Homo sapiens: one gene and its partners. The protein of the gene in region 3 purifies or fractionates together with the protein of the main gene of each other region. This does not show direct contact. Each region holds a gene or a part of one and is shown on either strand. Other genes may lie near its edges.

Evidence for each region.
Region 1: the proteins of VTI1A (region 3) and VAMP4 purify together in Homo sapiens (affinity purification with mass spectrometry; 5 studies listed by BioGRID and IntAct, with this or other methods). This does not show direct contact.
Region 2: the proteins of VTI1A (region 3) and STX7 purify together in Homo sapiens (affinity purification with mass spectrometry; 4 studies listed by BioGRID and IntAct, with this or other methods). This does not show direct contact.
Region 4: the proteins of VTI1A (region 3) and STX6 purify together in Homo sapiens (affinity purification with mass spectrometry; 5 studies listed by BioGRID and IntAct, with this or other methods). This does not show direct contact.

Annotation. Positions count from the first base shown.
Region 1 is NC_000001.11:171,738,918-171,747,352, reverse strand, and holds the start of VAMP4 (vesicle-associated membrane protein 4), read left to right. Parts: upstream 1-5,287; 5' UTR 5,288-5,443; intron 5,444-8,435. UniProt on the Homo sapiens protein: Involved in the pathway that functions to remove an inhibitor (probably synaptotagmin-4) of calcium-triggered exocytosis during the maturation of secretory granules.
Region 2 is NC_000006.12:132,509,734-132,517,475, forward strand, and holds the start of STX7 (syntaxin-7), read right to left. Parts: upstream 3,384-7,742; 5' UTR 3,274-3,383; intron 3,051-3,273; exon of another isoform or gene 2,794-3,050; intron 1-2,793. UniProt on the Homo sapiens protein: May be involved in protein trafficking from the plasma membrane to the early endosome (EE) as well as in homotypic fusion of endocytic organelles. Mediates the endocytic trafficking from early endosomes to late endosomes and lysosomes.
Region 3 is NC_000010.11:112,449,966-112,457,593, forward strand, and holds part of VTI1A (vesicle transport through interaction with t-SNAREs homolog 1A), read left to right. Parts: exon of another isoform or gene 1-761; intron 762-7,628. UniProt on the Homo sapiens protein: V-SNARE that mediates vesicle transport pathways through interactions with t-SNAREs on the target membrane. These interactions are proposed to mediate aspects of the specificity of vesicle trafficking and to promote fusion of the lipid bilayers.
Region 4 is NC_000001.11:180,984,622-180,992,249, forward strand, and holds part of STX6 (syntaxin-6), read right to left. Parts: intron 5,489-7,628; coding exon 5,363-5,488; intron 3,725-5,362; coding exon 3,618-3,724; intron 151-3,617; coding exon 56-150; intron 1-55. UniProt on the Homo sapiens protein: SNARE promoting movement of transport vesicles to target membranes. Targets endosomes to the trans-Golgi network, and may therefore function in retrograde trafficking.

The DNA of each region.
Region 1 (8,435 bases), on a different chromosome or scaffold from region 3:
TACAGTTATGAAGACAATGTTCTTGTTCTTAGGAGATATCTAATGAAGTATTTAGGGGTAAAGAGGCATGATAGCTATAACTAATTTTCAAATAATGCATGCCGAGGGGAGATATAAATTTAAAGAGAAGTAATAAAGCAAACTTAGTGAAATGTTAACAAACCACGTAAACTCTCTGGCACTCTGTTTCTTCATCTACCTGGAGACAAAAAGAGGGCTGAACTATTTTGTTTTTATTCACACTGTCATGAAATCCATTTAGGAGTTGAGGTCAGCATTAGAAAAGCGTTATTAATGAATCTGGATAGAGGATTTAAAAGCATTCAAAATCAAAACTAAAATAAACTAATATCATATTTATATAACACCAAGGCACTCTAAGCATGAAAAGCTTATGGTTAACTACATGATATCTGTATACTTCTTCTCCAAACTAATTGAGTTACATGCTTACAAGAGTCAATTTGCATTTGTACTCCAAAGTATTTATGCCTATTATACTTATAGAATATATTTAAATATGTAAACTAATGAAATACAAATAGAAAGTTATTTTCTATAAAAACTAAATTGATAAACATGAACAACAAACAAAAATTACTATAGAACTAGGCACAGGTAAGACAAACCTGTAAAACTTTGGAGAAAAAATTGTACAAAAATCTAGACTGACTGGGCATTCAAATTGCTTGAAAGGTGTCTTTAACTTCTTATTCCACTTTGAAGAAAATGAAACTGTAAACTGTAAACAATGCAACTTGTAACAAAGACAAAGCAGGTGTTCCAACCAGCAAATTCATGCTCAGATAAAAGGTCTTGGGCCTACTACCAAGACTGGTGAGTGAACATATACATTTGAGTCAAAATAAAATGACTAAAGTATATATTTGCCATTTTTAAATATGTACCACTGTAACTGACTTTTTAAATTAACTGGTCCAGTGGTCCCAATTTTAGGGGAAGAGAGTGCCTCTACCATTGTTTTAATTGAAAAACTGATATACATGGTAAAGATATTCCAATAGTACAAAACACTACACATCAAGAAAGTTTCCCTTCTGTATTAGTCTTCTAGGGCTGCTATAATGAAATACCATGGACTAGGTGGCTTAACTACAGAAATTTATTTTCTCACAGTCCTAGAGGCTAAAAGTCCAGGATCAAGGAGTCATCAGGGTTGGCTTATGGTGTGGCCTCTCTTTCTGGACTGCAAATGGCCATCTTCTGTGTTCTCATATGGCCTCTTCTCTGTGCCCATGCACTCAGACACTAGCCCTACAGGATTAGGGTTTTGCCTTTTTGATTTCATTTAACCTTAATTATTGTCCTAAAGGCCCTATCTCCAAATCTAGTCACACTGGAAGTTAAGACTTCAACATATGAATTTTGAGGGGACATAATTCAGTCCATAACACTTTCCATGCCAGATTCACAGTCCTCCTGGTGTGTGTGTGTGTGTGTGTGTGTGTGTGTGTGTGATGCTCAAATGGAAGTAGAGTCTACACACTATTTTGCACCTTACTTTTCTCACCTTATAGCATCATAGAGGTATTCCATGTCAGCACATATAGATCTATCTAGTTCATTTTAATGGCTGCATACTATTCTATTGAATGGCTAGACTATGACTCATTTCAGCAATTTCCTATTGCTGAACATTTAGAGTTTTTTTTTTCACTCTGTTACAAAAATCCTGTAACAGATATTTTTATAGAATACTTTTATATACAACCTGTATACCCATGGGATAAATTTTAGAAGTAAAATTATTAGATCAAAAAGAACTTCATATAAAATTTTGATACATATAATTACCATGAAATTTTTAAAAATGCACCAATTTTTATACTCTTACTGTTTAAGAATGCTTGTTCCTCCCACGCTGCTCCCATACCACACATACACACACCCAATATTGTAGTATCAAATTTTTTTTATTTTTGCTATTGAGCTAACACAAAAGATCAAACTGTCAAATCAGGCTCAAATCAGAGATTTTACTCAGTATCAAGCTTTACTAATAGTTTCAAGGATACCAGTAATCCCCAGGTCCTTTCTTCTTGCTTTGGATGCATCCTGGCCCAGGACAGTAGATGTGGTTTCTAAATCAAGTGTACAGTCACCCCACTTACACAGAAGGAGCCAAATCAGTTACAAAACACTTCCATTTTATGCTACGTTACATAACTTCCGCGGTATTTTCCAGTTAATCATACCCCTGAAATCCGCATTGATTCTTTTTTGTTTTGTGAGAGGGAGTCTCATTCTGTTGACCAGGATGGAGGGCGGTGGCGCGATCTCTGCTCACTGCAACCTCCGCATCTCCAGTGCAAGCTATTCTTCTGCCTCAGCCTCCTGAGTAGCTGGTGTTACAAGTGTACACCACCACACTCAGCTAATTTTTGTAGTTTTGGTAGAGACGGGGTTTTGCCATGTTGGCCAGGCTGGTAACTCCTGACCTCAAGTGATCCACCTGCCTCAGCCTCCCAAAGTGCTGGAATTACCACATCGATTCTTAATGTGTTTACCATAAACAATCCCAGCCCTGGGACATCCTGTTAGAGGAATTCCGTAAATATGGACTCTCTTGCTAGCAAATGCCATTAGTTTGTTTGCCAGGAGGTCTGTAATTAGTATATACTTTATATTTTATAAAAATCACATGCTTTTTTGCTTGCTTTAACCTTGCTTTCCTGAGAGTATTTCCCTACGAAGGGAGAGACTGGATTGCAGATCTTCTGCTCAACTCCTTCTTTCTCAGTCACTGATAGATGAAAAATGGTATTTCCTTGTTCACTTTTACATTTTAAGTAATGTTGAACATTTAGCAACAAAATATTGAAAGCTAGAAGGGAGATGAATCAAGATGCAATTGCCTTAGCAGACTTGAAAAGTAGGAATCCCAAGCAGGCCATGAAGCAACCTGATACACACAGTGAAACCCTGTATAAGGCTCAGGAATTGGAAACACCACGTAAAGCTGAAGAGAGCATGATGTGAGCTATAAATACAGGCGGAATGGTATAAAGTCTGTTTAAGAATGAATCAGATGCTGAGATTCCCTTTGCTATCCCATCAAAAACCCAGAGATTTAGTCCTGAAAGACAGCAAAACGCTGATTCTCTAGCTAGGAGGACAGCAGGCCCTCTTAAGGATGAAGGTGTCATGTTGAAAAAGGGGAAAAGAAAATTAGAGGACTAACATCTGAATAACTGAAGCTCACTAAAAAGAAAATGGAGGAAATAAGTAACTCAAGTTGCTTGGAGTTCTGACTCTAAGCTCAGTGCTATTATAATCTTTTAGGCTTACTGGTATATTTGATTCATGTTAACTGTAAAATGACATTTTCTAAGTTTCACAAATATTGGGGTTAGTCAAAGGGACTTTGTTCAGGTGATTAAGGGTGGGGCTTGCATTACCCCTCTCCTAAGCGATCATTCCAAAATGACTGGCAGGACTAAAGAATTATGTTTAAAAAACAAAAAAACCCAAAGAATGGATTATCTGTAAAAGCTATGCAATGACGTGCCTGTTAGAGCTCACTGACCACACCTTAAGTTGTCTAAGAGATGAGGCTATAACTAGCTAAACTCTAATTGGCTAAGGCACCAAAGCCAGAAAATAGCCCATAACATGCAAATATACAGACATAAAATCAACTGTAAGTGCTGGGCACAGCTGCTCATGCCTGTAATCCCAGCTACTTGGGAGGCAGAGGCAGGAAGATCACTTTAGCTCAGGAGTTCAGAGCTGCTGTGCGCTATGATTGTGTCACTGCACTCCAGCCTGGGGGAAGAAGTGAGACTTCATCTCAAAAAAAAAAAAAAGATCAGCTGTAGAAGAAAAAATAATGTCAGGGTTACCTGTGGAGTCTGGGGGTAGACCCACTATCACACCTAGACAGGGATACAAACCATGAGAGGCTTCTCTTCTAAGTGGGCCGTTTCAGTCCAAGTTGCTGACTTGGACAGCAACTTGGACTGAATAAACACAGGCAACTGAGTTTAGCATTAAGCTTTCAGAACCTTCAACTGACAACTCAACGGCTGTTTCTAAATCTCAGAACATTTAAATCAGAATCTAGGTAGCACGTGGGCACCTACGTAGTTTTAAAAGCTTTCCAAGTGATTCAACTCCAAGTGAATCAGAGTGGAGCATCGTTGCCTTAGTCATGGCATCTTTCAAATTCGTTAGTACATTTTTACATAAAAATAAACATCAAACAAAAGAAGAACAACTTTTTGGTAAGAGGGTGTCTATTCTTTCCTTTCCTTTAGTGTCCGCAGATCTTTCCTCCTGCTGTTTTCTTGTCTACTCTTGTTCTTGAACACCCCCTCTTATTTTTATGTCTTTAGAAAGTGCCTGGCACAGTATTTCAGACAGTTAAAATACTGTATCAACAAAGGACCCATAGATACTGTATTAATTTTAAAAGATGTGTAGTGAATATGATTCAATGAGTAAAATAATCCAGCTGGGGCGTGGGAGGAACGGATAATAAAACAAATAAGAGAACGGAAAAACAAAATTAGGAATTGTTTCTGGTAGACAGCTACTGCGGGCGTGGAGATCTAAACATGATACCAAATTGGGCGGAGGGGGAGGGAGTGAGGAAGGAATGGGCAGAGTGGCGGAATGGCCTGGCGAGGGCGATTTCCTGAAGGCTTTCAGGTTACAACTAAGGGATACCGGGAAAAGAACACCGAGCCCTCGTCCCGTATCTATCTAAACTAGCCGTGTTAACTTTAAGTCAATCTCCTCTCTGAACCAGATATTCCTCCTATCTAAAGGGAGGAGCCTGGCCTTAACATCTCTTTCCAAGTCTAGCTCTAATTCTGTAAACAGGGGATCAAACAGATCTCCTTTCTTCAGAAAAGGCCCCAGACGAACCCGAAGCAGGTCCTCGAGCTGCGAGCCACTCTCCACTTGCCACTCAACGTAGTCAGCCAGAGGGACGGATGTGCCACCAAGCACCACCTTCTTTCTAACGCCTCATCACCCCAGCCACGCACTCCGGCGCGGCGCCCAGTCCCGAGCGGTTCTCGGAAGTTTCCCACTCCTCCCCTAATCGCCCTCCACGCACGCCGGATCACGACCGGAACGTGGACAACCAGTGGTTGTTCCTCCCCTAAAGCACAGCATAAATTTGGAGAGATGCATCTAAACTGCGTGTGGGTTCGGGCTCTTTTAGGTGAATAGGGCTCGGCGGATCGACTTCCTCGATTATCTCCGTGCCCTGGACCCGCCCCCTCCGCCTGGCGCCAGGCCGCCGAGCGCCGATCGGCTCGATGAGCGGAGGCGCTGCTGCGGCGCTGCGGCCGACGCCGGGTCCGCACCAACTGTCTCCCCCTCCCAGCTTCTTACCTCGGCTTCCTACTCCTTCCCCCGCCCGCCCAGCACCGCCAGCCCGGGAGAGCTGCCGGGAGTTCCCCGGGAGCCTCAGGTACTGGCGCTGGCCTGTTCGCAGCGGGAGGGGCTGGTGTGAGGAGGAAGGAAACGAAGAAGACGCCCCTGCCTTGCCGCCCCCCGACGTCCTAGTCGGGCTGGTCGGCGGGCCTCGGGGATCTAGGAAGGGACCCCGGAGTGGGAAAAGGTTGGGGCCGGGGGTGCCGTGAGGAAGGAAGACGAGGACAGGGGTATGCGGACGAGGAGCAGTTGAGGGAGAGAAGAATTGGAATTGAGGGGTACTCTGGGGTGATGGGAAGAGAACAGTACCATGGATGGGGAAGGTTTGTTAAGAGTGGGATGTAGTGAGGAATTCCAGGGGGTACAATGGGGCAGGAAGGGCCAGCGTTAGGAGCAGATATATCGTGGGACGTGGCCTGGTGTGACAGATTGGGTGTGGGGGGTGAACGGAGCTGCCTGAAATTGTGTATTTAAAGGGCCCGGGGGAAAGAGCGCCAACCCTGCTGTGTTTATAATGACCGGAAGGTGGGGGTGAATCGTTACACTTGACAGGTTTTGCAAATAATATCTCCGGTCTGTGTCCATCCAAGTCACTTTATTTCTGTGAAACTGCATCAAGCAAGAAGGCTGATGACAGACAAGGAAGACGAATCAGAAAGAGAATGGAGGCTGGGAAAAGGAGAGCCTTTGCCCAGATTCAAAGCTATTGACTAGATAACGTACTACTTACAAAAACGCACACATAGACATTTAAGTATATGCTGATGTATAAGAAGCATACGGTGATGTGACTCATTTGAGTGAATTGTATAGTGGTGGTCTATCCTCAATGTGGAAGTACATGATGGCTCTCTTATTTACATGTATACCTAGTCACAAACAGCTGAATTCACATGTCTTTTTTTGTAGGAGAAATCTTAGGCAGACTATATCCTAGTCTACTTTCTGAGCATGATTTATTTCTACTAGTTGTTTGATACACATATCAGTTACTAATAATCAGTTGCAAATAACATCAAAGTTCATCAAGGTAGCTAATTAATCTGCCTACTGCTTTGCTGATGGGCTATTTGTTGCACATGGTTTCTTGGGATTAAGAGACCTGAATATGGTGTTTGCTCATCCTTAAGATTGTAGTTTTACTGTATGTCTTATAAAGGCATTATATAAGTCTGCCCGTTGTTTGCTTTGGGATGTTGAGGCAGCCTCATTGCAGGGGTTAAAATCTAAATACAGATAATAGTTAAAAGCACAAGTTCTTCAGTAATTTGCCTTGTCATCTGTTTTTCCATGCATTCTGTTACATTTCTGCATGAATGAAGTATTCTGACATCAAAGTATGAGGAATAAAAGGGCCAGATGTATGTGACAGAAATATTGTGGAACCAAGAACTCAAGAGCTGTTACTCAGGCAGCAAGAATTTGGTTTTTGTTACAAGTGAATAATTTCTGATTTGGAAGCATTTCTTATCAAAGAAAAGTGTGTCCTTTGGTTTTGACAAGCAGCTGACTTAAAACATTACTTTTATTTGGTTCGTGAAGCCAGATCCTGGGATTATTCTTTTTTAAGTGTATATCATTAACAAACAAACTGATGTCTAACTATACCTAATTTAAAGGTCTAAGTGTTTCTTCTTATGGAAAAGGAAGCAGGACTATTGGGTTGTTAGCAGGAAGTGAGTCTTTCTAGAACAGAATTCTGTAAACCTGATGGGCAACTAATTGAACAAATGATTAAAACTGATAATGCACAGCCATTGATTAATTTAGGCCTGTATCTCTGCTGTTTCAATGAATGTAGTGACTAACGTTATCGTTACTAAACTTTAGTTTTCTCCTAGTTTCTTGGTGCCTACTTTAAAGAAGCATCATAAAGAGTAAAAGAAAATGCATGTGTATCACTGAGCACCGTGCCTAGCACATAGTAAAACATTCAGTATTTCTGAGCTATCCTGAATTGATGGGTATTCATCTACCATCTAGTCAAAAATACTGAAAATTCATTATTTGCATAGAAGAACTTTTTCGCAAAAAAAAATTTTAGTATGTTGCATACACAAGCATTTTCCTGGAAAGTCACAATGCATATTAGCATATAACAGGATGTGAGTCATTCTGTAGCAAAGAAAACTAGCTTTGTTTAATCCAGTTGTTTTGATAGAAAAAAATTGAGTTTCTCCTATTCTCTCTCAACACAGACCCCCAAAAGATTTCTCCTCACAAGCAAGGAGGAAATTCTGCAGCAGATTCTCCAGCTGGGTGTCCTCTAATTCAATTCTGATACTGTATACCTAGAGATAGCATCAGATCCTGCAGGTTGAGGGCTTAATCCTACAAGATTCCCCCCACTTCAGGTGCCAATCACAAGTTCCAGGTTGTTTTACCTGTGTTTCCAACTGACTGGCTATAAATCAGAGTTCCCACAATCCCTTCCTTGTGTTCAGTTTATTTGCTAGAGTGGCTTACAGAATTAAGAGAAACACTTTGTTTACTGGTTTATTATAAAGGATAGAGATCAACAGCCAGATGGAAGAGGTGCATAGGGCAAGGGGTACAGAGCTTCTGTGCCCTCTCCAGGTGTGCCACCGTCCAGGAACTCTCTACTTGTTCAGCTTTTGGGAAGCTCTCTGAACCCTGTCCTTTTTGGGTTTTATGGAGTCTTCCTTAGTAGGCATGATTGATTACATCATTGGCTATTAGAAATCAGTTCAACCTTGAGCCCTCCTCCCCTTCCAGGAAGCTAGGGGGTGGGGCTGTAAAGTCCCAGTCTTCTAATCATGCCTAGGTTTTTCTGTGACCAGCCTCCATCTGGAATCTATCTGGGGGCTAAGCTACCAGTCATCTTATTAGCATACACAAGACACATCACTGCAGCGATTCCAAGGATATGTCAGGAAATGGGGATTAAGACCAAATGAGTATATTTTGTAAATCACGATATCACACCAGTACTTACCAAACTTACCCCTTTTCATGGAGTACCAATGGGACATTATAGTTTGCAGAATATTTTTGCATGTATTATCCAA
Region 2 (7,742 bases), on a different chromosome or scaffold from region 3:
ACACAAAGGAAAGGAACCAAATGGTTGTCTTTAAAAAATATATATACAAGCATAGACAGACAGGATAGGTAACTACAAATTGATTAAAAGCTTATGATCTCTGCATATAGGCTAAATGGATGCTGAGTTATTCAGATGTCTGCTTTCCACATCAGTCTCCATTACCTAGCCCAGAGCTGCTACGCACTAAAGTACTCTTGTTGAATACTTTTGAAAGCCCACTCAGAATTCCTATTTAATTGCTCAGAATAATAATTATATAATTCATTACCTAGACCTGTACTAACAGACTAGCCACTAACTAAATGGGCTGTTAAAATTATAGTGGTTACTAGAAGCAGAGAAGGATGGCGGGAAGGGGATAGCCAAAGGTTGGTTAACTAACACCAAAATACAGCTAGGTAGGAGGAATGAAGTCTAGTGTTCTATACCCCTAAAAGGTGACTACAATTAATTACAATTTATTGCATATTTTCAAATACTTAGAAGAAAGAATGAATTGTGAATGCTCTTAACACAAAGAAATGTTAAATGTTTGAGGTAATGGATATGCTAATTACCCTGATTTGATCATTACACATTGTACACATCTACTGATGTATCACATGTATCCACAAATATGTAAATCATTATCTGTCGATTAAAATAATAAAAGCAAAAAAATCTTATTACAGGTTATTTTAAGCTGCTAACAAGATAACTGATTGCAGTAAGAAACTACACTTTTACTCTACATTTCATTTTTTCATGTGACAATTTACACCATTTTATATTGTGTATCACTTAAATTACATTGTAGCTCTCGTTTTTAAAAAATTAAAATTAATTAAAATTAAGTTAAATGAAAAAAATCAGTTCCTCAGTCACACTAGACACCTTTCAAATGTTCAAAAATTCTGTGTGGCTAGTGGCCAGCAGCTTGGACAGCTCATTCATAGACCACTTCCATTATCACAGAAAGATCTATTGCACAGTGCTAATCTCCACATTGCAATAATCATCTTTCTATGAAGATATACAAACACTATAAAGAGAAAAACAGGAAGGGAGAATCAAAGTGCAACACTCAGATGAGAGTCTTCTCAAGACGGCTTCTAAAGAACACAAAGGAATGAACAAAAGGAATGTTAAAATTTAATCTTGAAGTGTCAAACACTACTCCCAGTTAAAATCCGATATACTGTAGAATCCTTAAGATTTCCATTTAGCATATATCTCATGCTCTATAAATCTACCCTGGGCAAAGAAGTAGTCAATTTCACTTTCTTAATCATTAGCATCAGCATAAACAACTGGACTTCTCTATACCCTCTACCCCAAGTAAGTTCTGAGGGGTGGGGGGTGAGCATTTTTTTGTCTGTTTTGTGGACTGCACTATTCTCACTGCCTGGCTACATCACAAGTGCTTAACAAACATTTGTAGAATGAATGAATGTACCCACCTCCTAAGAACACACACCCAGCGTGAGGGTAAATATTACCATTTCCAAAACATAAAATTCCAGTGCCTTCTTTCAGATACCGAAGGTCCCAGGCTTCTTGCTGCCTTGGGCCTTTGCTGGGTGCCATTTCCTATTTCTAGAAGGCTCTTCCCATGATCTCCACGTGACTGGCTCCTTCTCCCCAGCAAGGCCTCATCACATGCTAGAGAAACCTTTGTGACCACTCTGATATGAAAGTGAGAACTCACCACTGGTCACTCTTTGTCAATCTAACTTACTGCTTCACAATACTCAAAAGTCGAATTAATCACTGTTTATTATTTATCCCTACACCTCTGGAATACAAACAGGAGCTACTTCTGGAATATAAACAGGAGAGAGATGACCTTGTCATCCTGTGTAATCTACAGTGCCTGGTGCATAGTAAATGCTCAAGGAATGTGAGGGTGCTCTGTCTACATAAGTATCCTCTGCAAAAACTACATTAACTGTATTCTTTGGCCTTAGCTCTTTCATCACTGACCTTTTGTACTACTTGGTTTTAGTTCACAATACCGAGGATTGTTTTTTTCATACTTTCACACATGAAACTTGCAAATTAAATGGAATCACAGCAAACTTCACTCAGACTTACTGTGAATATTTTCTATAATTTACTTTTCAATCATCAGCACTTAAAGTTTGGGGTCATAACCAAAATAAGGATTGATTTTGTTATCAAGAGCAACATAAGTAACATATCTGAGGAAAAATTATGATGTTAATCAGTTAATATGGTATCATATTAACCTCTACAGAAACTGTGAAGTTAAGAGCATAATTCTTAACTAGTCACGAGTCTGAGGCCAACTTCTCAAAGTAGCCTATAAGGCCTGTCCACAACACAAAACACAGTTTAACACCGTTATCAGCCTCTGCCCAGGTGTGCTCAGAGAACCTGCAGAAGAAATGTCCACTTCCAACATTATTAAATAGCACAGCATTTCATAATTACTTTCTTTTCTTCCAGATTCTGGGCAAGTTTTATATATTATATATAATTATAGTCAGAATACAACGATCTGAGGTAAACAAAAATTAACGTATACAGATAAGAGCCAAACAAATGTAAGAAATTTGTGGGAAAAAACACACAGCATTTGATCAGAAATGCAACTTTTTTTCTTTGTCTGAATTTAAAGAAAGTAACTAGAAAACAAGGTGGAGGAAATACTAGAAATATTTTATGTACGTTTAAAGGTTTTTATGTAAATTAATTAAAGGTGTATACTCAAAGAATGTCAAAGTATGTTAAAGTCATCAAGCCAAATTAAAAAAACAATACTACGATCCTCTGAATAAATAAACATACACGGTTCGCCTGCTACAGCCATACATTTTTCAGTTCCTCTATATTCGGGAAGTTTAGTGTGTTTTTCAATCCGTGAGTTGAAAAGAGGAAGAGGTCATTTGGTCGTGTCTGGATTCCTGAGCTGGGCCCCAGCCGGCTCTGGCGCCCTCCCCGGGGTGCGCTCCGCCAGCCGTGCGCCTCCGGAGCTCTGCCCAGGGGACCGCGGCGGGTGCGTGGCTGGGTAGGCCCACCTGACCACAGCCGCGCGCACCCGGAATGCGGAACGCGCCGCGCCCTTGCACCCGGCCGGGGGGCGTGGGGAGCCGCAGGCGCTCCGGGAGCTGGGGCAGTCCCGCCCTTCCTAGCCTCCCGAGTGCCTGCTGCAGAGCGCAGGGCGGCGGCCACCTGACCACGCGCACAAACAAGAAGGCGCAGCAGCCGCAGGGGCACCGCGCCTCCCTGTCGCCCGGCCAGGGAGCCCCCTCCCCAGGGTCCTCTTACCTGGACCTCCACGGCTCCCTCCTACACCTCCGACCGCCGTCACCCACCTACCCCGGAGCCCTCAGCTGCAATTCTCAGCTGATGGGCGGTGGCGTGGGGACGCCCAGTGCGCATGCCCGCAGCACAACTCAGGAAGAAGGCGGGGTTCACCCCTTTTCTATTGGCCCGCGGGGCTGAGTGACAGCGGCCCTCACCGCCCCTCCGGTTCCAAGCTAAGGAATGGGGGTATCAGCAAAATTGCAAGGGAGCTGTTCTTTGAAGCCTGACGTAGAGATGGTGAACGCCTCTTAGCCTGCGTGCAAAAAAGGACAGAATGGAGGACAGTTGTCTTCTTTATCTGGTGAAGCCAGCCTTCTTGCACGCGGGTCTTCACCCCGCCCCATTAGCTCTTGCCTGTCTTGTTTGCTAACCTTTAACTGCAGTAGATCGCGTTGACAGCTCTATCGAAAAATGCAAAGGCGAGTACACAATCCTAGCAGGAACAATGAAGGAATAAGTGAAGAGTCATCTCTGGGTGCTCACTTGTAAACAAGTTTTCCTAGTACATACAAGTCATTCTAAGCATTCCTGAAAAGCAGGGCGTAGTTTTCACAGGGTTTAAAACAAGCAGAGACAGTTCCAATGATAAATATGCAAATATATTGTAATTGTTAGATGAAAAGCATCAATTGCTACAAATGAAAGAAAGCCCTCTCCAAATTAATTAGAAGATAGATTGGCTTAGCCTTTGCCTATATTAAGGCAACACTATTTTCTAAAATGATTACCCGGATAGGTGATATCAAAAGTCCAGACGCACTTAGGTGGAAAAAAACAAAACCCAGGATAGAATTCTGATTGGAACTCACCAACACTAAGTGTGGAATGTTGTCTGCTTAAGAGAGATGGACAGAGAAAGAATAACCCTGAAAACGAGTAACCCACAAGATAGGAAATAAACCAGGAAAAGGTAAACTAGAGAATGAAGGAAAAAAGGAGGGAATTGTCCATGATGTCACCTGTTACACAAAGTTCAAGTAAATAAAGAACTGAAAGTAGTGCATTGTACTTGAGAATTAGGAAGTGGCTGGTGAACGTAGGAAGAAACATTTCAATCATTGAAGGAACACATGAAAGGATCTTACATCCATGTGAGGTTTAGTGCACTTTCCAAATACCCATTCATATTACCTTTGATAGAACTCTGGGCTCCGGGGAGGGAAGGTACAATGCACTACAGAAGAACCTGAGATTAAGTGGCCTCTTCAAGTTACCCTGATAGTTACTGACTATGCTGGGCCCAAAACTTAGCTGTCTGAGCCCTCATCTTGGGCTCATTCCAATTCCTTGTTTTAAAATATGTTATGAGTGGATTCCTTCCAGGTCTTTTGAAAACTTAGAATAAGATTTCATCCTTTGGTATTCAAATGGGAAAAAAAAGAATTATAGTCTAGACAAACTTGCAAAATTTAGAAGTATTAAGATAAATGAATTACTAAGAGTTCCTGACACAGTATTCCATCTGTGAATCTGGCTGCTACCAAGTTAAATTCAGCCAGGTGTCTTGAAAGTGGTAGGGCTTTAAAAGTCTCCTAATTTGATGAGTGATAATGTCACATCTCCCAAAATAAATCATTTCCATGTGCAGAAGTTACCTATGACTGAAAGCTTGTAATTTGGATTTTCAGAAATAGTAATTTGCGAGATTTGGGCCTTCTTGGAGAGATTTTGAAGGAAACCAGAAGTTGTTGAGTGGGGAATGTTATCTGCACACTTGTGGTGTCCTTATTAATATAAATACCATAAATACCTCCTATGTAACATCTCTCATGTAGGATGGAGAACTGTCCACTGCTGTATCTCCAGTGTCTGGGATAGCAATTCCAGGGAATAGAAGGAGATAATTGCTGGTTCATTTAATAGTTACTGAACTAAAAATATTTTTTACATGACCACTATGTGATCTTCTGGGAAAGCCAAAGAAGTAAAAGACGCATAAAGGTAAATAGAGCAAACAGGGACTTATTGGTAAGTGAGAAGGACAAGTTGACTTATGAAGGTTTGTTTTTATTTATAATACAGTGGGAAAACCACAACTGGTTTAAAAAATCTATGCTAGATTAAAAGGAAGCTTAAATTAATACTTAATAAACAAGAGTTAGTTCAGTTGTGCCTTATTGTTAAGCACCTTCCATGTCTCTCTACAGTCTACTTGTTTTCTGTTTAAGATCACACAAGTGCCTAGTCATATATCAAGCACAGAATTGATTTTGCCCTAGCTTTTGAACATGGAGGTAATAAACAGATATCCCGTGGAAATCTTACATGGGCCATTATAGCATGATGACCGGTATATTTGTTTCTAATTTTACCTCCTGATGACTGGTATTTTCGTTTCTAATTTTACCTCCTAAGTGTTGTTCATATGTGCCCTCTTCTCTCTGTCCCTCACGGTTGACATCCTGATCCACTGCAATAGCCTCCTTGTTGGATCTTCTATCTCCAGGTCTTCTCAACTTTATTATTGTCAAAGCCACCACTGAATATTTGAAGCTCTAATCTGAGAACTTTGCTCCAGGCTTCATGCCATTTCCATGATTGCAGCATTCCCTGAACTGTATTTCTTAAGAAAAAAAACCAAAATAATTAGATTGGGGAGAGCTGGGGAATTGTGTGGGTTGAAATAAGGAATCAGGGAATTGGTCTACAAAGAAATGTTTGGGAAACATATTATATTGCATTCTTGAAGATTCACAGAGCATATTTGTAAATTAAAGACGCTGAGAAGTGGTTCAGGAAAGAAACAAGTAAAAATTTCTTTTACCCAGTATTTTATGAGTGTATTTGATGGTGGAACTTGCCTGTAAAACTTTTAAATATGCATAATGGAAAACACTGCTCTCAAAATCAAGTCCAAGCCCCCTGCATATACACAGGGTGACCATATATTTAGTTTGCTAGGACAGCCCTAGTTTATGCTTGTTGTCCTGGCCGCCTGTCTTCTGAGCATGCCCTTTCATTCTCAAACGTGCTTCAGTTCAGATGATGCATCATATGGTCCCTATACATATAAGGACCACATGGTCTGATCCTGCCTTTCCAAGCATCAAAATTTATGCTTGGAATATGTTGGCTTAAATAACTCCTCTTTCTCTGTCTGCTCTCCCCTCCATCCCAGCAGCTAGCTCCCCAGTCACAAACCAGGGGTTTTCTTATTTCTGTGCTTCGCTCACGTAGTTCCCATTAGCTAGAAAACATTTTTTCTTCTCCCCCATGTTTTAAACGATTCTTTATTTTGGAATAATTTTAGATTTATAGAAGAGCTGCAAAGATAGTACAGCACTCCTGTATATACCTCACCCAGGTTCCCCTAATGTTTCCTTAATGTTAACATCTTACATAACCATGGTCCACTTGTCAAAACTAAGAAATCAGCATTGGTATAGCAGTACCAACTAAATTAGCTTGTATTCTCCCTGCTCCAGCTCTAGAATCAGTCATTTTACTATTAAGCACTTCTTCTTTTTATTGGAAAAAGCTATTTAGAAATCAAAGGCCAGGACCACCAGGCACAGTAGCATGGCTCACACCTGTAAACCCAGCACTTTGGAAGGCGAAGGCAGGCAGATCATTTGAGCCCAGAAGTTCGAGGCCAGCCTAGGCAATGGGGCAAAACCCTGTTGTGATGGTTAATACTGAGTGTCAACTTGATTGGATTGAAGGATGCAAAGTATTGATCTTGGGTGTGTCTGTGAAGATGTCGCCAACAGAGATTAACATTTGAGTCAGTGGGCTGGAGAACACAGGCCCACCCTTAATCTGGTGGGCACCATCTAATCAGCTGCCAGCAAATATAAAGCAGGCAGAAAAATGTGAAAAGGCTAGACTAGCCTAGCCTCCCACCCTATATCTTTCTCCCGTGCTGAACGCTTCCTGCCCCTGAGCATCCAAGTTCTTCAGTTTTGGAACTCGGACTGGCTCTCCTTGCTCCTTAGCCTGCAGACAGCCTATGGGACCTTGTGATCATGTGAGTTCATACTTAATAAACTCATATATATATATATATATATATATATATATATATATATATATATATATATGTATTCCATTAATTCTGTTCCACTAGAGAACCTTGGCTATTACACCCATCTCTACAAAAATTAGCTGGGTGTGGTGATGTGCACAGTAGCTATAGTCCCAGCTACTCAGGAGGCTGAGGTGGGAGGATTGCCTGAGCCCAAGAGGTCAAGGCTGCAGTGAGCCAAGATCATGCCACTGCACTGCAGTGTGGACAACAGAGTGAGACCCTGTCCCCCACCCTACCAAAAAGAAGAAAAGAAAAGAAATCAAGATCAAGGCACTAACCTTCTCATTGTTACTAGGGTGTCAGTGCTTCTACGCTCCCCTCAATGGACAGAGCTAGGAAATAAATTTATATATACTAATTCATGTATGTAGGATATTTACTCCAGGCTTCATGCCATCCCCAT
Region 3 (7,628 bases):
CTCAGCTCATTGCAACCTCTCCCTCACGGCTCAAGTCTACTCCCACCTCAGCCTCCCGAGTAGCTGGGACTACTCAAGCCACTGTGCCCGGCTGATTTTTTTTTTTTGTAGAGATGGGGTTTTGCCATGTTGCCCAGGCTTGTCTCAAACTCCTGGGCTCACGCAATCCACCCACTTGGGCCTCCCAAAGTGCTGGGATTACAGGCGTGAGCCACCGCACCTGGCCTGATCATAATTCTTAAAAACGCAGTAGTTGCCCTCTTAATAATGACTTGTGCTTGCCCCTTTTTAAATCTATTTCCAATTGATGTATAGAAAAAGATGAAAAATATATCCATGTAGTTATGAATTTCAGATGTATGTCTGTAGATGAACAGACATTAATATATATAACCATGGCAAAAATAGTTTGATGACAAGTAATTATAATCTCTCTCTCTGGCCATCATTGGCGAGTGCAGTGTTGAGCTAAAAGTGACCCAGAGGAGGTGAACTATAATTTACTTGAGTTAAGAAGGATAAAAATTGGAGCAAACTTTCCAGCCAAAGCAGTTAATTCCCCCAACATAGTAACTTACTTAAATTCAAGTAGAGTGGGTAGATCTATTGAAATGAACTTTACTCTGCTGTGCATGTTACAATGTATTAAAGTATTGCTTCCAAAGAGAACAGAAGAGTGAACATTTAAAAATTTTATTTTAAGAAAGAAATCTGATTACTCTGTGATATTTTTTAAACAATAAAGAGATTTTGCTCTTAAAGTGTTTGAATCTTAACTAATTTTAGTAATTGAACTGAGATGGGTGAGTTCTTTCTTAATACCCTATGGCACTATATTTGAACATTGTTTTTTTAATTATTATGGTTCTGTGGGAAAGTAAGGAAAAGGGATGAGCAGAAACTATACAGTTAGTACTTTATTGTGAAGTTCCTTTTCCTCTAGTGATGGGAGTGAATTCTTAAGTGGGGAATGTTTTCCTCTGGTGCAAAGATTCTGTTACACGAAATAGGCTTCCTGAAGAATTTTAAAGTAGTCTTTTTGCAATTAGTTGCTTACTTTACCATTCACAGAGAGGGAATGATCTGTTGTGAATCCTGTCACTTTATGGCTGTCCTCAGAATTGTACCAAGAAAGTATTACAGCAAAATGATTCAGATTCAGACATGACATCAGATCTGTTTAGAACCCTAGTTCTGCTACTTACTAGATGTGCAGTCATGGACAATTGCTTGGCCTTTCTAGGCCTGTCTCCTCCATCGGTAGAATGGGGGTGAGAGAGTAATAATTTCAACCTTATAATGTAAAAATCAGTGAAATAAAACATGTAACACACTAGCACCCTTCTTACACAGAGAAAACACGTGATATACTAGCCATTAATGATATTACTGCTGCTGCTGAAGACAACAGTTGGTAAGATTAGCTAGGACCCCGCTCTTCAGACTTTGTCATGTTAATTGAACTCTTAAATCTTACACTTCAATTCTTGCTTCCTTTCTGTTCCTAGACTAGAATTAGGTAAATTTCTCTTGATGAACACATTTGAAAGGAGGTAAGTGATTAGGGCCTTTTGGATATGAATTTGGAACTGGGCTTTGAACTCAGGATCCCAAGGGGGGCAGTCGGAGGAGAGAAGTGAAAGTGGTGTCGGACAAGGCAGGTGTCCTTTCTGGAAGGAAATGCCTGAGTCTAGTGGATTGGTTATGCCAAGCCCTGGAGGATTGTCTAGACCATCTAGACTTAGCCACGTGTAGATGAAGGCATAAACATACTTCTGTGATTCTCTCTTGCCTTTGCAAGGTGGTTGCAGTGAGATAATTCAGAAAAGTTGGCTTTTGTTCATGAATATTGTGGTTTGCTTAAAATATATTTGGCTTTAGAGCTGTAATATCTACGTGTAGCTATTGAGCACCTGAAATGTGGCTGTTGCTACATTGTGAAATGATAATATTTTAGATATATGCAATTACGTATTATTGAAATTAAAAACATTATTAAAACTAATTTCACTTGTTTCTCTTAAAAGTTTTTTATTTTTGAAAACTTTAAAAAATACTGCTACAAGAAAATTTAAAATTGCATGTGTGACTTGCATTATATTTCTGTTGCTCTAGAGGGTTACAGTTGAAGGGATGGTTCCAGTCCTGATTCAGGAACTCACTGCTACAATAGTTTGTTCCTTGTTAGGATTCAGGCTACCTCAAAATCTGCTTCATGAGCTGCTGGGCAAGGTCCAGCTTTTTCAATTGAGCATACAGGGAAGATAGTCTTTAGCAGTTACTGATGGCCCAGTTATGTCTCATAAAAAATTTAAGCATTTAGGGCCGGGCGCGGTGGCTCACACTGTAATCTCAGCACTTTGGGAGGCCAAGGCGGGCAGATCACGAGCTCAGGAAATCGAGACCATCCTGGCCAACATGGAGAAACCCCGTCTCTACTAGAAATACAAAAATTAGCTGGGTGTAGTGGCACGTGCCTCTAATCCTAGCTACTCAGGAGGCTGAGGCAGGAGAATTACTTGAACCAGGGAGTCAGAGGTTGCAGTGAGCCAAGATTGCGCCACTGCACTCCAGCCTAGTGACACAGTGAGACTCTGTCTCAAAAAAAAAAAAAAAAATTAAGCTTTTATGGGGTTGTATTCATCTTTGAATAATATACATTCATATAAACAATTGTGTGTGTGTATGCATCTATAGATCTATATATCTGTATGTTGTCTATATATTGGTCAATTTAGTCAACCTAAGTAATGGCTTCAGTCTTTTGTTTTTGTTTTTTTTTTTTAAATAAACTTTTTATTTTAGAACAGTCTGAAATTTACAGAAAAATCACAAAGATAGTACGGAGAATCCCATATACCCCATGCCCAGTTTTCTCTGTGATTAACATCATGTTAATATGGTACATTTGTTACAGCTAGTGAGCCCATATTGATACATTATTATTAACTAAAGGTCATACTTTATTCAGATTTCGTTTTGTTCTGTTTGTTCTTTTTACCTAATGTCCTTTAACTATTCCAGGATCCAATCTGGGACACTGTAAAACATTTAGTACTCATGGATTTTTAGGCCCCTCATGGCTATGACAGTTTCTCAAACTGTCCTTGTTTCTGATGACTTTACAGTTTAGAAGAGTACTGGTCAGATATTTTCTAGAAGGTTCCCTCAACTGGGATTTGCTCAATGTTTTTCTCATGATTAGATTGGAGTTCTGGGTTTTGGGGAGGAGGACCACAGAAGTAAAGCATCATTTTCACCACATACCAAGAATACATACTGTCAACATGACTTATCACTACTGATGTTAACCTTTATCACGTGGCTGAGGTAGTGTTTGCCAGGTTTCTCCACTGTAAAGTTACTGTTTCCCTCCCTTTTCCATACTATTTGGAAGAAAATCATATATGCATAGCCTATACTTAAGGAGTGGAGAGTTACACTCTACCTCCTTGAAGCCAAGTAATTACGTGAATTATTTGTAATTCTTTTATGTAAGAGAGATTTATCTATTCATTTATTTACTTATTCAGTCATTTACATCAGTATGGACTCATAGATACCTATTTTATCCTTTGTGTTATATTCCAATACTACTTTATTTTCATGTTGCTCAAATTGTTTTAGCGTTGACCATTGGGAGCCTTTTTTTTAATTTGGCTTCTGTGTCCTTTTGGTATACCCCCATCATTTTGGCTTTTTTCTTTTCTTTTTTTTAAGGACTATATTGCTTTCTGATAGTATAAGATACTCCAGGATCATCTTCTCTATTTCCTGTTTCAGTGCTAGAATCAGCCCTTTCTCTGAGGAATCCTGTTTCCTTTAATTAAAGAAGGGTATTAGAAACCAAGATCTGGACAGTAGGTGTGCACATTACTCCCGGGGTGTTGTTGCCTCTGGAACCTCTCAGCTGACAAAGCAAGGAAATTCACATGTATATACTAAGCCATGTATATGAACATATCTACAAGCATTTGCATATGTAATCATTTGTATATATAGTATGTTAAACACAAGTTCATACTAGTATCTCCAGCTCTAATCCATTATCAGATGGATCATTCTGTAATTGCTTTATTTCAACACTGACCATTCTATACCATGTTACACAGGGTAGCATCAGTAATATACCCATTTAAAAATTATCTGTTCCTCTCTTAGTGGTTTGACCCTACATTTCTAAGTACATACATAATTTCTGCTGCTAGTTTTATTTTAACATATCTACATTGCACAAAGACAGGTACAAGTAACTGAATTCAAGTGAGCCTTGACACTTTAATGAGGGTGTTCTGTGCTGATTAAGCACTTCTGTAAATATCAAGAATTATACTATGCAAAGACTTGTTTGTACGTCAGCACTAAGAACTTCTATTGAGTAGGAAATGAGAGGCCAAGATGGGAGGATCACTTGAGCCCAGGAGCTCAAGATCAGCCTGGGCAACATAGTGAAGCCCCATCTCTACAAAATAAAATTGAATTTAAAACTAGCTGGGCATAGTGGCACGCACCTGTCATCCCAGCTACTCAGGAGGCTGAGATGGGAGGACACCTTGAACCCAGGAGTTTGAGGTTACAGTGAGCTATGATCATGCCACTGCACTCTAGCCTGGGTGACAGAGCGAGATCTTGTCTCTAAATGAAAAAGAAAACTAATTAAAAATGTATTGAGTAGGAAAGAAAAGATCATACATACTATGCTAAGACTTATGTGTATGTACATCAGCACTTATCAAGCTTATAGACCAAAAAAAAAAAAAAAAGTGGGAGACTGTTTATATATTAAATAGTATATTTTATATAATACATATAGCAGTTACGAGCTCAGTTCAGGACAACAGACCCACCCCATTAGAGTTCCAACTCTGCTATTTATTAGTTGTTGAACTTTCAGGAAATAATTTAGTATCTCTGATCTTATTTAATGGCTTGAGAAAGGGATAGTAATAATACCTCAAAAAGGTTGTTTTAAGGATTGACTATAACAATGTTAAACACAGAGCACCATGTACATTAATGATAGCCCTTAGTTACAAAGGTCTGAATCCTAGGTACATGTTGTTTGAAAGGGGATGTCATTTGGGGTGGGCAGAATGAATCTCTTTTGGGAATTACATGTAAATGTTGCCAGGTTACCAAAACTTCGTGTTGGTAGGTATTTCCAAGGTCATCTAGTTCAGTTCCCTCCCCTTCCCTCCTCCCCTCCTCCCCTCCCCTCCTCCCCTCACCTCCCCCCTCCCCTCCCCTCCCCCCTCCCCTCACCTCCCCTCCCCTCCTCCCCTCCCCTCCCCTCCCCTCCCCTCCCCTCCTCCCCTCCCCTCCCCCTCCCCTCCCCTCCTCCACTCCCCTCCGCTCCTCCTTCCCTCCTTCCCCCCTTCCCCCTTCCCCCTTCCCCCTTCCCTTCTTCCCTTCTTCCCTCCTTCCCTCCTTCCCCCCTTTCCCCCTTCCCCCCTTCCCCCTTCCCTTCTTCCCTCCTTCCCTCCTTCCCTCCTTCCCTCCTTCCCTCCTTCCTTCCTCCCTCCCTCCCTCCTTCTCTCCTTCCTTTGTTCCTTTCCTTCCTTTGTTCCTTCCCTTCACTTCCCTTTCCTTCCTTCCTTCCTTCTCTGCTCCCTCCCTTCCTCCCGCCCTCCTTCTCACCTTGCTTTGTTCTTTCCCTCCTTCCTTTGTTCCTTCCCTCCTTCTCCCCTCCCTCCCTTCCTCCCTTCCTTCCTTCCTTCCTTCCTTCCTCATACTTTACCCCTAAATCATCACTTTTGAGATTTGCCTTCTTAAAAACATGAGGAACACTATAAGGACCAATCAAAGAATGTCTCAGTTCCATCATTATTTCTGACAGCACCATCACAAAATGAATTTTATGAAAAGAAAATGATCTAATTGTGTTAACTCCACCTCTATTCCAATTTAATTATTTTTTTCGTGAAGGGAAATTTGTCATTTCAAATGGGAAGATTTGCCCCAGTCCTCACTAAAATGAGCTGTTTTTCCCCCTCAGTTTCTCTGTGAGTAATAAGTATGTTGCTGCGTGCTAAGACTGACTCATTTATTCTGTAAGCACTTAGTGGCCCCTACCATGTACAGCTCTCTATGCTAAATACAGAGTTTGGACACGATTTGTCAAGAGTAGTCTCTGCCTTCAAGGAGCCGGCAATGAGCCTGAAGAGGAAACTGCAGGCCAGGTGCAGTGGCTCACACCTGTAATCCCAGCACTTTGGGAGGCCGAGGCAGGTGGATCACTTGAGGTCAGGAGTTTGAGATGACCCTGACCAACATGGTGAAACCTCATTCTACTAATATAATACAAAAATTAGCTGTGTGTGGTGGCGCATGCCTGTAGTCCTAGCTACTCGGGAGGCTGCAGCAGGAGAACCACTTGAACCTGGGAGGTGGAGGTTGCCGTGAGCCAAGATTGCACCACTGCACTCCAGGCTGGGTGACAAAGTGAGAGTCCATCTCAAAAAAAAAAAAAAAAAAAAGAGGAAACTGTAGAACCTAATTTTTAATGACCGTTGTACCCCCTAGAGCCGAGCATAGAACTCTAGGAATTCAAAGGAAATGAGGTATGTCTCAGGACCTCGCCTAGAAGGATAGGTGGGGTTTGGACAGACAGAAACAAGCAAAGACTATATTATAAGAGGTTGCAATAAATGGATGCAGTGGGCATCTGTTGCACCCAGCAGCTTTCATTCTATCTACTCAATTTCCTATTGAGGAACTACTTAAACCCCCTTATTCCAGTCTTGATAGAACTGACAGGCTGCCCTGCCCTCTGTAGGTCAAGAGGTGAACATATTACCTAAGCAAGGACATTTATAGAATTTTTGCCAGGAATTTGATCAGAATGAACCAAGGAAAGAGAATAGTTAGAGCCGCTCAAGACTTTGCTTTAGCAGAGACTGTAAGTTCCTATTTCCTTGGTATCCTGAGCTACTCCTCATACTTGTCTTTCCCAAGCTGGGTGGCTCATTTTTGTCCATTGATCCTATGAGCCACCCCACATTATTCTAACAAATTATCTTTTTTGAATTAGTTTAGCCAGAATCACTTCTGTCGCATTCAGCCAAAGAACCCTAAATGGTAGCTTAACAAAGATTTAGAGAAGAAAAAAACAAGATTTGTTTGGGTAGCAATGAACAGTCTGTCTGTAGACTGCATACTAGAAACCTTGTAGTTGGAAATAAAGTTGGAAAGGATGCTCGGCTCTGAAATGTCGAGGACCTTAACTGCTAAGCTCAACTGACCCACCAAAGCCAAATTTTAGGAAGATTAAATGGGAGAGGGGGCAGGGAGACCAAGGTGGTTAGTAGCATAGCTTCTTTTGCAAATTCTTGCTGTGTCCTGCATTATGTATTTAACTTACTTTCATTTTTTGAAAACTGATTGTGTATGCCAAGCTCAGTATAGTGTAGGACTATAAAGATGACTGAGACATGGTTCTTGTCTTCCCAGAGCCTCTAAGTTGAAAGGTTGTTCATGTGAGGGATAAATCATTAGGATTACATAAGAGTTATAGATATTTTATGTACAAGGGGGTGATTAACTCTTATGTTGGGTTAGGAAAGCCTTCAAAGAAGTGATGATTTCTGAAGAGAGTTTTGAATAGAGGTTTGCCAGGTGGGCCTGGTGGA
Region 4 (7,628 bases), on a different chromosome or scaffold from region 3:
AAGACAGAGTTCTAGAATTAAGTACAAATGCTTAAGCTTTAAACGCCATACATACCACTGGTCATATGAGATACTTTTGCAAGTTTCTTCATCACATTGTCCAGCCGGGACTGAGTGCTCTCCAATTCGTGAGAGAAATCTTCCAACATACTAGAGAGAAGCAGACACAGAAGGTCGCTGGTAAGCACAAAGCCTTGGCAGTGCACTTGCACTGGGTTAAAAGGACCAGGCCTCCATTTTAGCAAACAAAATAGGCAACACTGGGTTTCAGGACCTCACTCTGTTATCCAAAATCCTTGGGACAAGATAGGATTTTGATTTTGGAATTCTCAGGATTAAAAAAAGCCTAAATTACATATCCTTTGTATTAGTCGACACCACTAGGAGGACACCACCAGGAGGGTCTGGGGCAGTCCCCGTAATCAGATACTTAATATTTCTGCAGAGAAAACTATGAGGAATCACAGTTGGAGTCAGTTCAGGTAAGGTTTTTCTGTAACATGAGCTTGCGGCAAATTTAAAGAAAAAAAAAACAACGAGATTTCTTTAGAGCTTCCTAGATTTCAGAACTGCAAGACTATAGACCTGTCTATACAATAACACAAACTCAGTGGCAGTGCAATGTGGTAGAAACAATGCTATCTGAGGCAGACAACCAGGCTTTGCCACTTGTTTACATTGCTACCTTCGACAACATACTCTATAACTCTTTGGGACTGTTTCCTCACCTGTAAAATAGGGCAATCCTATCAGCTCAACTTCCCTCACAGGGCTCTTGTGAGAACCAGGTAATAAACAAAAGCACTTTATGTCAATATGAGTTAAGGAATGTACTTTAATAAAATAACCTCCTATAAGGCACTACGTGCTTTATTATAAACCCAGAAGGCCTCAGGACTAACATCCCTGATGGGGTGTGTGACAGTGTGTCTGTGCATGCACACGCGCATTTCCCCATCTGTCCTCACAGAGAAACCAGTATTTCCCACTAGGAAAACTGACTCCAGCAGGCTTACACTATTTGCTGTCCAATGTGCAGCTGGGAAAGAAAACCCCAAAATACTATTTCAGCAGTGCCTATTTCATAAGTCACTAAATATTCCAGACTTTTCAACTTTTGATTAGTAAATGATTATTCTGAGGCTAGAATGTAATATGCCAATTAGTACTAACAGTCTTACTAAAAAGGCTGTATTAACTCTGACAGCATCAATGGCAGTTAGAAACTCCTGGTCTTGATCTGTGCCCACAATAGACACCTGACAGCCTTGCAGGATTCAGGGCAACCAACTCTTCATTAAATCAACTGTTACATATATGTTGACAACTAAAATAAGTCTTTGTCCCTTACCTAAATTTTCAAATTAAAAAATATTTAACTCATTTTAGATCCTGGCAGCATCTTGGCGCTGCAGCTGGCAGGCCTATCCAGGCAGGGCCAAACTCTAAAAAGCAAGAGCTACCTTTCTGCGCTAGGTATGACTTTTCATACTGAAGACAAAACAGGCACATCATCAGGCACATCATCCGACCTTCAGTCCATGGACACTCACCAACCAAGTTGCTAGCCCAAATCTATCTCAGTACCATCCAACAAAAATATGAGTCACATATGCCATTTTACATTTTCTAGTAGCCATGTTTGTAAAAATTTCAAAAGAAACAGGTGAAATTAATTCTGTTGTATTTAGTTTAATATAGCCAAAATACTGTAATTTCAACATGTAATATAAAAATTATTAATAAGCTATTTTATATTTTTCTATATGAAGTCTTCAAAATCCAGTAAGCATTTTACCTCTGGAGCACATCTCAATTCAGACTGGCCACATAACACTTACTCAACAGCCACATGTGGCTAGTAGCTATTATACTGGATGGCACAGGTCTAAGTCCAAATCCCATGCTTTTTCCCATTTATCTGTTATTTCTATTTTTTTAGAGACAGGGTCTCCTCTGTCACCCAGGTTGGAGTACAGTGGTGCCATCATAGCTCACTGCAGCCTCAAACACCTGGGCTCAAACAATCCTCCCACCTCAGCCTCCTTCCCTAGTACTTGGGACTACAGGTGTGAACCACCATGCCCAGCGGTTTCATGCCCTTAAAAACAAACCCCTTTACTATTGTTCTAGTGAGCTGTGGAGAGGGAGTGGAGGTAGGGGTGTGTCAATGCACCATCTTTAACTGGAAGTCCCTCTGACTCTATTACCCACTGCCCAGCCAGGCTGCCTCATCAACAGAGAAGCTCAGGCCATTAGTCCTTTCCCCTCCTCAAACTGAACTTTAGGGTCAGGACCCATTTTAGATAGACATGAAACAGATTCTGGCTACTCCAGCTTCCTACCTGGTCTCCCTACCTGACTCCACTGCAGCACATCATCTAAATCACACCTGATCACACCATCACTCCTCACCTCACCTCCACTGGTCTCTCATTATGCTGAGAATAAGTAGTCGTACCTCCTTACCATGCTGACAAGGCCTTCCCTGGTTTGTTCTCTGCCTCCAGACACATGGAACCTCTCTGCTCCATGCACGTGTGCACCTCTCCATCTTCACAGGTGCATTTTCTTCCTCCTGGTCTACACACCCCACACCACCTGCCTCCACACCAACTCTCACCTCACCTGGCTAGCATCCACACATCCTTCAGATTTCAGTTAAACCCCTCTTCCTCAGGGACCTTGGGCTAAGTCAGGGCTCTCCAGGCAGCATGCACTGGCCCCATCACAGGGGCCCTCCCACTTCACTGCCATCACCTAATGACCCCTCGCCACTTACCCAATATCCGTTCTACCCTGCAAGCGGCAAACTCTTTGGCAGAGATGGGTTGTCTTGTCTGCTCTGTTCCCTTCTATATCCCTTGGCTTCCAGAAGGCCCGGTGTAGAACACGGGCCCACTAAGAATTCATAATCAATCAATGTGTCATGATAAACGTAATATCGAGACAGGAAAGTTTCTGAAATATCCTGGTGGACTGTTTTTTCATTTTTCTCTTTCAAAAGATTTACAAAATGATGTGGCAGCATTTAAGAATGCAGTTTTTGCCATCGAACTTCTGGGTGCAAAAGGGATTGTTCATAAGGAAAAACAAACTGAGGTTATGTTTTGTTTTTATTTATTTTTCTGAGAGGAAAGAGTTTTTATTAACTGGCGTTAAATTTGTAAGTTTTTTTTAAAAAAAAAAAACAAAGTTACAATAATTTAAGATTCAAAGCAAAACGTGTCTGTTCAATATAGCAGGAGAGTCATGGGATGATAAAGTCAGCTCATGTCCTATCCTCTCTGGAACAAAAATTCCCACAGGTTACAGAGGCTTCTCTGTTTCATATTCCCATTCATAACTATACTTCGAGTATCTGCTCAGAGACATCTGTGTCTGTTTTTGGAGGTGTTTAAAAATAATAACAACTTCACCTAAAGCCTGTAGTAAAATTTACGAAGTAGAATTGCTTCTTTTGGGGAGGCTAATCTGTAAAACAGAATAAAAATGCAGCTATGAATAAAATAGCTTTTGATTTTACCAGCCACGTAGCTGCCAGGCTTTTTAGGGGTGTCATAGGATGGCTCTGCCCCTCAATTTCACTGAAGCGAGAGGGGTGTCTCAATACTCACACTGCCTGTTCCTCCAGCTCCCCTCCGATGCGCTGGGACATGTTCTTCAGCACCCCGATGCTGCCAGAGACCAGCTCCAACTGCTCATCCTGCTGTTCCACGATCAACTGGTGCCAGAGAAATGGGAAATAAGCAATTAAAATCCATCTTACCTGGTTCCAAGCCCAGCACTCTAGCAGCTGCTAGTTTCTTTGCCAACTTGGGACAATTCACATTCAGAAGCAAAGCCCAGAAATCAAAGGACCAGACCGTTGCCTCTGAGAACACACTGCTCAAAAGGCTGGATTGTTAAGCTACTGATATCTCCTGCTGATCCAACTTGTGAACAGTCAGCGGGGCTTGAAACCACCAAGAGAGATTTACTCTGGTTGGCTGACGTCCAATAATGGAGCAGACAATGGTTGAAAGCACACGTGCAGATGACCATTGAGACATGGGGATGTTTGGGAGGAGGAAGCCCATTGCCAAGATCAAGGTCTCAATCCACAACAGACTGCCACAGCTTAAATACAAGAGAGTCTGGCAAATCTCTGGATGTGGGGAAACTATGCAGTCTTTCCTCTCTCTTCAAGGACAAACGAAAGGATTCCCTGTGGCAATAAGTTACCTCAAGGACAACTACTGACTGACAAATATTTACTTTTAGTTGTGTTGCATTCTTCTCACTTTCTATAGAAAAAAAATTTCCTGGGTTTAATAGCAATTTAAGTAGACAACTGGTTAAGCAGACATACTAATGTAAAGAACAAAAGAACATATAAACTACATGTATACATAAAACACAATATTTAAGAATCAATAGTTTCAATGGGTACATGCTCCTCAAATCCCCAGACACATTATCATTAGCTTGCTTTTATTAATACAGCTACATATCAAAGGCATCAACAGACATAATCAATTTCATTTTCCTTCTACCCCTTAACCTACACAAAAGCAGTCATCTTTACATATAACAAAACCAACCAATAGGCCGGGCGCGGTGGCTCATGCCTGTAATCCTAGTACTTTGGGAGGCTGAGTCAGGTGGATTGCCTGAGCTCAAGAGTTCGAGACCAGCCTGAGAAACAAGGTGAAACCCCGTCTCTACTAAAATACAAAAAAAAAATTAGCTGGGCGTGGTGGCGTGCACCTGTAGTCCCAGCTACTCAGGAGGCTGAGGCAGGAGAACTGCTTGAACTCGGGAGGCGGAGGTTGCCGTGAGCCGAGATGGTGCCACTGCACTCCAGCCTGGGTGACAGAGTGAGACTCCGTCTCACAAAAAAAAAAAAAAAAAAGAAACCAATCAATAATTTTCGAAGAAAAAAATGAGAGATCTTTCTGAAAGTGTCTTTGCTGAGATGGACAAAGGTCTGTTTTTTCTAAGAGAACTAACTGAGCTTGGTTCTTTATTTTTTTAGAGAAAGGGTCTTGCTCTGTCACCCAGGCTAGAATGCAATGGCATGATCGAAGCTCACTGTAGCCTTGAACTCCTGGGCTCAAGGATCCTCCAGCCTCAGCCTCCTCAGTAGCTAGGACTAAAGGTGTGAGCCACCACGCCTGGCTGAGCTTGGTTCTCTTGAAGCAGTCACACTGTGAAGATTTTGAAACCCTTTACATATGCAATTATTAAACACAATCAACACAGGACAAGCTCTGGCTTACCCTCCTTGTCACTAAGCCACAAGACCCCATGGCTGGCAAAGGAACTAAGGGGGTGTCTTGTTTCCCACTGGCCCGTCCTAAGTCTGGGGTCCTTGGGGTACCTGCTGCTGTGCCTGCTGCTCCTCAATGAAATGAGAATTGGCTCTCTGGAGCTCTCGGTCCAGACGCCCATATTTATCTGTTGTTCCAGTGCTCCAGTTCTGGCTGCCACTGTCTCCCAGCAGTGCCTGTGTGAGAAGAACAACCAGAGGAGTCAGGAGAAACAAACAATTACTATCTCTGAACAAGTGATGCATCAAGAGTGATATAAAGAGTTTTCACATTTCTTGTCTATTTTCCCCTGGGCAAGGCTTTTATGTAGTGGTGTAGGTTGGTGCCTGGGTGGTACTATTTAAGGAATTCCAGGAAGGGCCCTCTATGTCTTTAAGCTCTCCCAATAGGCCTCACAATGGGCTTTGTCCCCTTAAAGTGCAAATAAACGTCTGCTAAATCAACAAACACCCATCTATATACTGTGTTATAATTGAAAAGCATTCAATCTCTTGTAAAAGAGCTCTTCCTGGTACCTGTGGAACTTCAGCAACCCATAGGTTCCAGTCAACCTGATTCCGAAGATCTAGAGTACTTTTTTAAAAAAAGTGTGACCCAGGGGAAGTTGTGGGTTTTTTTGGTGGGGGGAAAGGGAGAGTTCCCTGGAATGACAAGAAGGTAAGCCATAGCCCTTCACACACAAAGGCACAAGAACCATCAATGTCTGTTAAGTTTAACCCATGAATAGAATCCAGGGTCCTTCAGGCTTTCCAGATGACAACTGGGGGTTACTTTACAGGCAGGTATGACCACAAGGAATGCCTGACCCTGGCAACCGAGGCAAGGGCTGCCCTAAAGTCAGAGTTCTCCACCAGGGCTCCCAGACACAAGGGTCGGGTTTCCCAAGTATGAATTCAAGGAAGTTTGCAGCCATAAATGGGTATGTCTTCCTCACATGAAGAAGACAGGCAGGAATGTGAGAGTTCCATCTCAGCAGTTGGTTCTGACCAGATCCCCACAAGCCTTCCTGACTGGTCAAAGTAACTGCTCACACCAGCCCCGCAGGCAAGAGCCAGAAGACGCTAGCAACTAAGACTCTTTTTCCTTGTAGAGTTGCCAAATTTTCCTATCGGGTAATTTAAAAAAAATCTCAGGCACTATTAAAAGCCTGCCTGGTTACTTGGTTCTGTCTGAAAACCCTTCCAACAGCCCCATGACCTTCCTCCATACTGACACTGACCTCTTCTCAGACTGCGAGGGGTGAACTCCATCAAATGGCCAGACTTCAGGGGCTAGGATCAGGGAAGCTCAGTTATTAGAAGCTTTTCTTACAAGAGCTTCCAGGGGCCCAGAGCTTCAGTCCAGCTGGATGGTGACTGTCTCTGGTGTAAAGCAGATCCAAGGCTTTTTGTGGGTGGCTCTGCCCTGACCTGGTCTTAGGGCTATCAAGACTGAAAAGATCCTGCTCATTATGATCCACACTCTAAGGACCTCTATGGAAGACATGAGGAAATAGTGACAATTTTTTTAGGGTCAGAAAAATGCTATAATGCATCACTGGCCTAAGGACAGAGAACTGGGACACCACCAGGGCCTTGTGTGCTCCTGAGGTCACAGGGCTATTTTTCCTACGTTTTCCATGGTGTACACTTAGGTAGAGCTAAGTATAGGGCAAATCATCCACGTTTTATTGTGAAATAGCTTAAAGTTCATCAGTCTGATCCCAAATGTTTGTGATAATAGGATAGAGATTGAGAGAGGGCCCAAGGACTGGAAGATGCACCTGTGTGTGGGTGCCAGAGCAGGGGTGCTGGTGAGGCAAGGAGCAGCACAGAGCCTGGCACCTGGCACAACGTGGCAAGGCCCATGCCTGCTGGAGTGCTTAGAGAGCCCTGATCCTGCTATTCCTTGAAAATTTGCAACTTGACATTTCACTCATAGCCTAAAACAAAATTCCAAGCCATAACTAGATAGGCAATATATAAATACATACATGTATATATACTTTATATAAAATATATTTAAATTTATATATATATATTTATAAATATATAAATATAAATTTTATTTACGTTAGCCCAACTATACTATCTAGAGAATAAAACATTCAAATTAAGAGTAACAGCATAGGTGTTACTGACCTCACTGTCACAACTACTTCAGTTACTTCCACTTCCTATAAGCTCAAGTGCAAATGAGAAGAGAACTCCAAAACTAGCCAACTTGAGGGCATTCACTAGCTTCTTTCAAGAGAGGGAGCCAGATGGAATGGACCAGCTAGTGGCTTTTCCTAGCTATATTGCTCAAAAAGAAAGCAAAGGAGGCAAATAAGATTAA